Linked DNA regions of Homo sapiens: region 1 is linked to region 2. Evidence: fine-mapped expression QTL. A gene starts in region 2. The other region holds a variant in brackets. All regions are shown on one strand. Distances are between the middles of the regions.

What was found. PIP is the estimated chance that this variant, and not a neighbour inherited with it, causes the effect.
Region 1: its variant is fine-mapped to the expression of ZNF331 in lymphoblastoid cells (TwinsUK, PIP 0.95).

What each region holds. Positions count from the first base shown.
Region 1 is chr19:53,510,119-53,515,505 of GRCh38, forward strand. It overlaps a transcript of ZNF331 not described here. Among named protein-coding and RNA genes, the nearest start is that of ZNF331, 25 kb to the right of the region's middle. The variant T/C (reference allele first, on the strand shown) is at 2,960.
Region 2 is chr19:53,535,283-53,540,669 of GRCh38, forward strand. It overlaps ZNF331 (zinc finger protein 331), which reads left to right and starts at 2,863. Exons shown (of 6, transcript NM_001079906.2): 1 at 2,863-3,014; 2 at 3,934-4,000. RefSeq lists enhancers at 2,591-3,107, 2,893-2,942.

The sequences.
Region 1 (5,387 bases), 25 kb before region 2:
TCATGGAGAAGTGTCCTATGTGATGGAACATCCTGCTTCTGTGGGCGTGACAGTCTTTGCTCTTTCTTGGCAGAGAAACACTTACAATAGTCACTTGAGGACCATGTATAGATAGGCTTTCTTTCTTCTGAGTTTCTTGAAAAAGGATTCAGAGGAAACATTTTACCCACTTTCAGTTCGAGTGATGGTGGGGAGTGACTTCAGTAAAAATGGCAGATTAGGGAACTCGGGGTAGGAGTGGGAGCTGTCCATCCCCAGAAATCTCAGAAGGCCCAGCACAACCTGCCAGAATTAACCTGATCGAAACTTGAACTTTTTTTTTTTTTTTTTTGCCATGTAGCTTTATTTTAAATCAGACCTTTATCTTACTATGTGTTGTAAAGAATCGATTTTGTCACTTTGTAATGTGTCTTATGCACTGCAGTCTATTTCTGAGTTGTGAGCTCCACCCATCTATCAGTCTGCCCATCAACCAACATGTCTTACAAGACTAGCTACCCTCATTTCGTTCTTTTTCAGAGTTTTCTTGATTATTCTTATTTGTGTTTTCACCTATGAGATTCTTGCAATAACATCCATAACTCCCAACTGAATGTATCTATATTTGAACCAAATTAAATTTATAAATTAGCTTATGAGCAATTGATTTTTATAATATTGATTTTTTTTACCCAAGTCCATGCTGTAACTTCTTATGTGTACATTTGTATATTTCAGAAATTTTCTATTTAATTCTTATATACATTTAACATATTTGTTAAAATTATTCCTAAGTATATTTTATTTTATTGTTATTTTGTAATTGCATCCCCACCCCAAATCTAACTTGTAAATTATTATCTCATATATATGTAAATACCTGCTGCGTGTAATTTAAGGCCATGTCATGGGTTCAAACTGATTCCTAACATCAACCATTCAATTTTCCCCATTCACTGGAATGACTACTATTCCATATCCACAACAAGAGCTGTTGGGTTGAGGGAAATCAGGGTGGAGATGAAGCAAAAGTGAAGAGAAAACATTATCTAACCCACGCATGCAGCAAAACAACCTCCCTATGGATCAATATGTAATTATCTAAAGTATAAAATACTTAGAAAATATTAATATTTATCTCATACTATACAATATGGAAATTATAAGGAAAAGACAAAAGAATACCCAATTACTTATATATTCCCTACATAAAAATATATACATTTATATGGTAAAAGATTGCATTATCGCAGTGTAAAATGAAAATAGGAAAACATATAACAATATGTAAAACAAGTGACAATATGTATGTTAGATTTAATATCCTATAGTAAAACAGGGTAAATTAAAACTATAAAATAGAAGAAAATTTAAATCCAAGTAAATCATATGAGCCAAAAACTAAATAAACTAAATAAATATAATCAATAAGCATTTAATACATCTTGACTCAGTTTAGATATAAAAGAAAGAAAAATCAAACAATAACATGGTGGTTTTGCCATGATGTCATCAAGCGTAAAAAGATAACCTTTCTCAATAGAGATGCGTCTCAGGTTTGTGGGTCTGAGTCCCTCATGGACTGCAGGTGAGAGAGTGAAGAGACACAGCCTTTTCTCAATTAAAGTAGAAGGATATAAATATATATATTTATTTTTGCTATACTTTATAATATACAAACACATATGGATGATTACACCCTAATATTTGCTGTGATTCTACAGAAATGCATGACTCTCAGGAGACATCCAAAAGACAGCAAATATCTCACACGAAACTGAATAGTGAACTTCATCCTCAATGAACCACAGAGTTCACCATTCTGAGTATATCGTTCAAGTTATTTTCCTATTTTCCTTCCGCAGGTTCTAGCATGTATTAACACCGTGTGTCTAAAGTCATCCCTGCTGGTCATCTGGAGGAATCTGAGAAGGGGCAGGTCTTTCTTCTGACTCTCAGAGCAGCACCCTCTGCTGGACAGGGCTGGGCACCTCATCTCAAGCCCAATCTGATCCACCAACAGGGTCTGTTATCTCCGGTCCGGGGAAGAGGTGGGCCTCTCTCCATCCTGGGAGGAGCGCTGAGCTTCTCCTTCATCCAGGGATGGGCCCCAGGGACGCGCCAGTGGGACTGGGAGAAGCCACCCTCAGCAGGGAAGACAGAGATGCCTGCGTGGCCGAGGCCTGGAAGGTCTGCACCATGGTGCACAGAGGCCCCGGAGCTGGGTGAGGCCAGAAAGCTGCTCTGGGGTCAGCGGGGAATGTGCCTGCTGAATCTGCAAGCACCTGAGCTACGTCTTCACAAATGGCCTCAGACCTAGAGTGCAGGGAGATCCCCTGGCTTTTCTGAAGTGGTGGCAGGTGGTCTCCTGGGTAGCAGGATCTGGGCTGCTTACTTCCCTTACCCAGTGAGGGCCCGCGGGGAGCTCTTAAGTTGGGCATCATGGGTCTGCGTGATGTGGCTGCTGTGCCCACATCAGAGGGTTTTTGTTTCTTTTCCAAAGTCAAGCTGCACTAATCTAGACCAGGGATCCCCACCCCTGGGCTGCGGACCGGTCCCCATGGGTGGCCTGTTAGGAACTGGACCGCACATCAGGAGGTGAGCAGTGGGTGAGGGCGCATGACCACCTGAGCTCTGCCTCCTGTGAGATCAGCAGCGCCACTGCATCTCAGAGGAGTGCCAACCCTACTGTGAACTGTGCATGCGAAGGATCTGGGTTGCATGCTCTTTATGAGATCAAACTAATGCCTGATGATCTCAGGTGGAACAGTTTAATCCTGAAACCATCCCCCCGTCTGTGGAAAAACTGCCTTCCACCAAACCAGTCCCTGGTGCCAAAAACGCTGGGAACCGCTAATCTAGACAGTTCTCTGCTAAGGAAGCACATGGTTGAGAAGCATCAGAATCGTTCCCACGGACCATGCTCCGGAGTCTCAGCAGGCTCCTGCAGGTGAGCCCCACTGGCCTCTCCTCTTCCTTC[T/C]GGACCTCCTCAGCTTTGGTAATGGAAAGCTGCATCCTCTTCTGTCCCCAGTTCCTCTCTGGGTGTCAGGATCTCTAAAACCCTCTCAGCCGCTGAGAAATCTGTCTGTCTGTCTCACAGTGTGTTTATCCGTGCATCATGAAGGACCCTCATACGGCTGACGTGCCTTGGCTGATGCGAATAACACTGCAGCAAGCGTGGGAGTGCAGATAGCTCTTGGAAATACCCATTTCCTTCAGACGCATACTCAGAGGTAGGATTGCTGGATTGTTTGGTCATTTTGATTTTTAAAATTAAAAAGAATTTTAATTCTCATATTGTTTTGAGTAAAATTAAATTATAACTTGTAAGGCAACTCCATGTTTTTTAGAATTTTTAAAAATATAATTGCTCTACCAATTGACTGTCCCAACAACAACGTACAGGGGTATTTTTTTTCCTCCGCATCCTCACCACTTGTTACCTTTTGTCTTTTTAATAATAGCAATCCTAAGACATGTGAAGTGATACCTCACTGTGATTTTGATTGGCATTTTCCAGATGATTAGTCTATTCAGGCCCTTTACTTTTTTTCGTTGTTGTTGTTGTTTTTGAGATGGATTCTCACTCTGTTGCCCAGGCTGGAGTGCGATGGCACGATCTCGGCTCACTGCAACCTCCGCCTTCCGGGGAGGCGTGATTAGCCGCCACACCTGGCTAATTTTTGTACTTTAGTAGAGATGAGGTTTCACCATGTTGGCCAGGCTGGTCTCAAACTCCTGACCTCAGGTGATCCACTATGCTTGGCCTTCCAAAGTGCTGGGATTACAGGTGTGAGCCACCACGCCCAGCCCCTTTGCTCATCTTTAATAGGGTTATTACTATTATCATATTTGCTTTTGAGTTGTGGGTGTTCCTTATATATTTTGGATATAAACTCCTTATCACGCATAGGGTATATATGGTTTAACATATTTTCTCCCATTATCATGCCCCAATATCACTAAGTTATATTTCACAGCTCCCTCTTGAACACCTGAAAAAATTCCTAATATATTTCCATGTGTCTGTATCCAGGTTATTGTGGTTTTTGCCTGAAAACACATTTATATATGCTGATATTCCCCAATAACTAATATATTTTTTCTCTGTTTTTTTTTGAGACGGAGTCCTGCTCTGTTGCCCAGGCTGGAGTGCAGTGGCACGATCTCAGCTCACTATAACCTCTGCCTCCCAGGTTCAAGTGATTCTCATGCCTCAGCCTCCCGAGTTGCTGGGATTACAGACACATGCCACCACACCCGGCAAATTTTTTTGTATTTTTAGTAGAGACGGGGTTTCACCATATCGGTCAGGCTGGTCTCAAACTCCTGACCTCAGGTGATCCACCCGCCTTGGCCTCCCGAAGTACTGGGATTACAGGCGTGAGCCACCGCGCCTAGCCCTAACTAATATATTTTAAATAACTTTTTGCTCTTGGCACATGGACTAAAACCACATCACTAGGCCTTCAATGACGTCCAATGTCTGCCATCTTATTTCCACTCCAGCTCCGCCCCAGGCATAGTTGCTTTTCTTTTTATTGAAGCCTTCTCCTTTTTTTTTTTTTTTTGAGACAGAGTTTCACACTGTCGCCCAGGCTGGAGTGCAGTGGCGCGATCTCGGCTCGCTGCAAGCTCCGCCTCCCGGGTTCACGCCATCCTCCTGCCTCAGCCTCCCGAGTAGCTGGGACTACAGAAGCCCGCCACCACGCCCGGCTAATTTTTTGTATTTTTAGTAGAGATGGGGTTTCACCATGTTAGCCAGGATGGTCTTGATCTCCTGACCTCCTGATTCACCCGCTTCGGCCTCCCAAAGTGCTGGATTACAGGCGGGAGCCATGGTGCCCCGCCAAAGCCTTCTCCTTGCCAAGTTAATTAAAGAGAATGTTTTCTTCATCAAATTAGAAATTACATCCTCAGAGAAGCTTTCCAGTATTTGTAGTTCTTACAGGCCACATTTATTACAAGTTTATAGACTCCAAACTTCTTCACTGAACAGTTAATAAAAAGGACACAGGCTTATTGTAAAATAATTCATTTAGTGCCTGCCATTCTGATTACACTAGAAATTTAGTTCTCCTGCTCCGCGTTCTGTTATGTGACTGTTCAATGCATTACTTAAAACTGCAAGATTGAATAGAGAGATCAGCTTCTAACATTGATGAATGCAAACCACAAGAAACCAAGTCTCCTCTGCAAAATGATGAAAACACTCGCAAAGTCACTAAAATCAATCATTTCAGACTTCTGAAATTTACCAAAGCCACAGAACAAAGTGAAAAGTATCTATCCCACAGAAAGTACCAAACTTCAGTAAGACAGCAGCATTTGTGTCATTTTAACATGGGCATTTCTGTCACCCTCCATCCTTCGTTCATTGTGGAGCACTGACTTTGTTTGGTTGGTTG
Region 2 (5,387 bases):
GTTTCGCCATGTTGGCCAAGGCTGGTCTCGAACTCCTGGCCTCCAGTGATCCACCTGCCTTGGCCTCTCAAAGTGCTGGGGTTACAGGTGTAAGCCACTGTCCGGCCGTAATTACCCATATTTATACCATCTAAAGATAATTACTGTTAACACTTAGTATGTATGTTTACTGTCTTCCCCTCCACCTCTAAGCATGTGTGTGTTTTGTTTCTGGAACATTGAATCCTATTAATCATGTAAATGAGGCAAAAACTCTCCAAATCATAGTTTGTAAAAGAAATCCAGCCCAACCACGGGTCACATTATGTCTGTGTGCATGTGGAGAGAAGAGAGATACCAGTCATGTTTCCTTGCTTTGAAAAATTAATCATTGATGAATATGAAAATAGTCACTGGATACCTTACAAATATGGACTTTGGAAATATTCCCAAGGTTATATGTGCAAGTAACGAATATTGACTGTAACATTTCAAAGGTATATGAAATAGAATGAGATAGCACTAGTTTAAAATGTTCACTTTTTTTTTTTTTTTCTTTTTTGAGATGAAGTCTTACTCTGTCACCCAGGCTGGAGTGCAGTGGCGCAATCTTGGCTCACTACAACCTCTGCCTCCCAGGTTCAAGCGAATCTCCTGACTCAGCCTCCTGAGAAACTGAGATTACAATCTCACCACCATGCCCGGCTAATTTTTGTATTTTCAGTAGAGACAGGGTTTCACCATGTTGCCCAGGTTGGTCTTGAACTTCTGACCTCAAGTGATCCGCTCACCTTGGCTTCCCAAAGTGCTGGGATTACAGGTGTGAGCCACTGCACCTAGCTGATAAGAATCTTTAAACTAGATTTTTTAAGGAACTATCATGTCTCTGTCTCCCTAGTTAAAAGGAAATAGCAGACTTGTTACTTTTATGAAAATGGATTGAGATATGTTACTGATTTTTTAGTAATAACAGCTACCTTATCTTAATTGTTATATATGACTGTGTGTTTCATGTGGATGATCCTGTTCAAACAGTCATACATTGTACTATCTTTCTTGTGGTTTTACCAGTGAGGAAACTTTACCACACTGTGAAGTTAATAACTATCAGAGCTCAGATTAACACCCTCAAATCAGACCACAGAGCCTGTGTTAATTTCACCAAAACATGTCTGCTCAAATTATATGTACCATTTTAACCTACCCTTTTCCCTTGTTGATTCTTCAGAAGTTTTCTTAATTAATGAGTCAGTATTATTAGGAAATGTACTCTATGTCATTGTATAACAGACCATGGTTTAATCTGATTTTCCTTTATCCTCCACTGCAAGATTTTCATTTTTAAAAATTATTCTCGACTGGGTGTGGTGGCTCACGCCTGTAATTCCTGCACTTTGTGAGGCCGAGGCAGGCGGATCACCTGAGGTCGGGAGTTCGAGTCCAGCCTGACCAACATAGAGAAACCCCGTCTCTTCTAAAAATACAAAAAAAATTAGCCGGGCGTGGTAGCGCATGCCTGTCATCCCAGCTACTGGGGAGGCTGACGCAGGAGAACCCCTTGAACCCAGGAGGCGGAGGTTGCAGTGAGCCGAGATCGCACCATTGCACTTGAGCCTGGGCAACAAGAGCGAAACTCCGTCTCAAAACAAACAAACAAACAAACAAAAAATTATTCTCTGGAAATTCTGGGTAACGTCAGTGGATTACATCAATGTTAATCTTCTGGTTGTGGTATTATATACTACAATCACCAGCTGAGGTAACCAGGTGAAAGGTACACAAGATCTCTCAATTTTATTTCTTGTAACTACATATGAATCTAAAGTCTATCTAATTAAAAGAGAAAAAGATTTTCAGAAAAAAAGCATTTTGTGAACATACTTCAACATTGTGTACAACTATAGCTACTTCCTTGGCATAAATACCAAAAAGTGGGATTTTGAGTCAAAATGAGACTGTGGTTAAGTACCTGCAACATCCTGTAGACCCTGTGACGTTAGTACTTGGAATGAGAGCGGGACTCACGGGGCATAACTGCTACCTGTACATTGTTTACAATGCAGCAAGCAAGGGACACCGAATAGCAGCTCCGGCAGCCTGTGCTAGCGGCCTGCAGAGAATTCCAGGTGACGCTCCAGAGGGGCTAGGAGAGGATACCCTTCTGAGGACAGCCATGGCTCGCCCGGCATCACCCCACTCAAGAGGCCAGACGGGGTCCCAGCTGGGGTGACACAGCTCCTTTCCCAGTCGGGAAGGGGCGTCTGCAGGGACCAGGAAGGGCTTAGCTTGGGGCTGCCCGCTCCGGCACCGACCTGGGACGCGCCCTGAGGCCCCTGCCTGGGACCGTCCCGGACTACATTTCCCAGAGACCATCCAGGAGTACGCCGTGCTGCATGCTGGAACACGGGGCTTGGGGCTCTGGTTTCCCCCGACGGCCCCGCGTCCTCTTCTAGCCTCACCCTCTCCCGAGGCCCCAGCGTTGGGGGACTACCGGGTGCGTCTGCGGCTTTGGGAGAGTGGGAGGAGGGAAAGGGATGGGAGGGGTGCACGCACACGTGTCAGTGTGTCCGCGTGTCAGCATCTGTGCAGGCGCACGTGTGTGTCGGGCTCTGTTGTGTCTGCACATGCGTGTCGGCATCTGTGCGTGCGCACACGCCCGTCAGGGTCTGTGTGCCCGCACAGGCACGTCAACAGCTGAGCACGCTATGTATCGGGGGTCTGTGTACGCTCACATACGTGTCGGGGTCTGGGTACGTGCACATACGTGTAGGGGTCTGTGTGCACATGCGTGTCGGGCTCTGCTGCTGTCTGCGCGCTGCGGCCGCTGGGTGCGCGTGCGCATGCGCGCTGGCCTCCAGGGGGTGGCGGGACCGAGTGTGTGACGCACTTGCGTGGGAGTACGAGGCTGACGCGGCGGCCCTGTCCCCGTAACTGTGACACGGGTGCACGCGAGCGTCATTGGGGGCGATGGGGGCCGTGCTGGGTGCGCGTTTGCACCAGTGACGCAGCCGCTGCATCTCCGCCAGTCCGCGCAGGTGAGATTGGTGCGCGTGGCTCCGAGGGGAGACGGGCACGGGGCTTCTGACGGTGACGCACTTGCTGGAGAGTGTGGGGTGACACAGCCGGGCTCTCCCCATAACTGGTGACCGGGGGTGCTCCAGAGGCTTTGGGTCAACGCAGCCCGTGCCTGTGAACCTCGGCGGTGCGTCCCTGGGACTCTGCTCCGTGAGGTGCGCTCTGGGGGTTGTGCGGGGGCAGCGGTCGGGACGGGTCTCCGTGGCCCACGGATGCACCTCTGCACCGTGTGGGGTGGTGGGGCCCGTAGCATGGCCGTGCTGGGCGTTAGTGGGTATGAGGGGCGCAGATGTGTCTCAGGACAGAGTGAGCTGTGGTGAGGCTGAGCTGTGCAGACTTGTGCTGGGATGGGTGATCGGGCCTTCTGGGTGACGCAGGTGTGTGTGACAACACAACCTGTAGCTTCAGCGTCTCTGTGCTGGGATGGATGATCGGGCCTTCTGAGTGATGCAGGTGTGTGTGACAGTGCAACTTGTAGCTCCAGCGTCTCTGCTGCTTCCCCTGCCTTCACCTCCTAACCAAGCGGTACCTGCCTGAGAACAAGGGCCGCGGAGGGACGTGAGCGCCTGAGCCTCGCCTGGAAATTCACCAGCAAGAAGGCAGAAACAGCCATGAGGTGACGCTTTCAGAGCCAGAAGTGCTGTGCATGCAGGCCACCTGAGTGACAGGGGACGGTGGCCTCAGGAGTAGAATTCCTCCTGTAGAGGGACAGGTCCCTGATGTGGGAGACAGGGAGGGGGGCAGCTCCACGCGTCATCATCTCAATCGCCACAGCGTGCTCTTCAGGAATCTCCCAGAAACTCCATCTCGGGGCCTCGTATTTCTCATTGGTTTTATTAGGTATGGCAGGTGTTACCCTTCCGGTTCTGTTTTCCCCAGGCCAGCATCCTTCAGAAAAAGCATCCCCGAGGAGGAAGACGAATCGTTAAACATCTGAAAGGGTCAGGTGAGTATCCTTTTTTTTTTATATTAAATGATATGTGTTTATAAGACTTAAGACCAAACATTAAAGGTAGATGACCAAGATTTGAGTCCTGTTTCTGCCTCTTAGCTTTTTGAGCCTTCTGAAGATAGGCTTGTGAGGAGGGTGAAATGCATTAACACGCATAAAACCCATAGACGCGCACCCCTGAGTGGGAGTGCACAGTGAGTGCTGCTGTTTTGTGCTAAGTCTGGATGTCTGTACATCAGGAGCAACGTACATATGAAGGTAACTGGGATGGGTGTTTGCAGGTTCACAAAATGAACCACAGCCTCAAATGGCCTAGAACTGTTATCCTTAACCTGAGGGCCTGCCTTTAACTCCACTTACAACTTTCCAAGGGACATTCTGTGTATATTTACTGTATGTGATTATCAGTGTTAGTGTATCTGTCCCCCACCACCACCACCCTAAGGAGATACTCTGTAATTTCATGGCATTAAGAAGGATGGACATGCCCCAAAGACATTTAGACCCATTGGTCTACAATCGAAGGCTGTGTACCTTGACCACAATTATTGTTCAGGATGGTGGAAATGGTTAAGTAATTATACCACGTTCATTTCATGGAATACTCTGCAGCTACAAAGAAGTAAGTTTAGTTATAACCGTAAGAAAGAAAAATGCACCTGACATAATATTAAACACTACTAATAGTTATTAACAATAGTAAATGAAGGAAATGCTTCAGTTGCCTACAAATTCCATTGAATAAGATTTTTGTAAATACCTTATCCAACATGACATTTTAGTATATTATTTAGGATTATTCATGAATCCTTCAAAAGAGAGGAGCCTGGCCACATTTATTGAGCGCATTTTTGTACCATACTCTATTGTGTTTTGCACACACTCCTTAATTTATTCTTACCTTAGTCTGTAACAAAGTACCATAGACCGGTGGCTGAAACCACAAACATTTATTGCTCACAGTTCTGGAGGCTGGAAGTCTGAGAAGAGGGTACCAGCATGGTCAGGTTCTGATGAGGGCCCTTTTCCAGGTTGGAGACTGTCACCATCTTGCTGTGTCCTCTCACGGAGGACATGTGTGTGCTTGGAGGCTCTTTGGCAGAGCTCTAGGAGGTGTGTGTGCTTGGAGGCTCTAGGAGATAGTCTTTTTTTTTCTGTAATTGAGATGGAGGCTTGCTCTGTTGCCCATGCTGGAGCGCAGTGGCACAATCTTGGCTCACTGCAACCTCCACCTCCCAGATTCAAGTGATTCTCCCGCCTCAGCCTCCCGAGTAGCTGGGATTACAGGCACATGTCACCATCCGCAGCTAATTTTTGTATTTTTAGTGGAAACAGGGTTTCTCCTTGTTGATCAGGCTGGTCTCGAACTCCTGACCTCAGG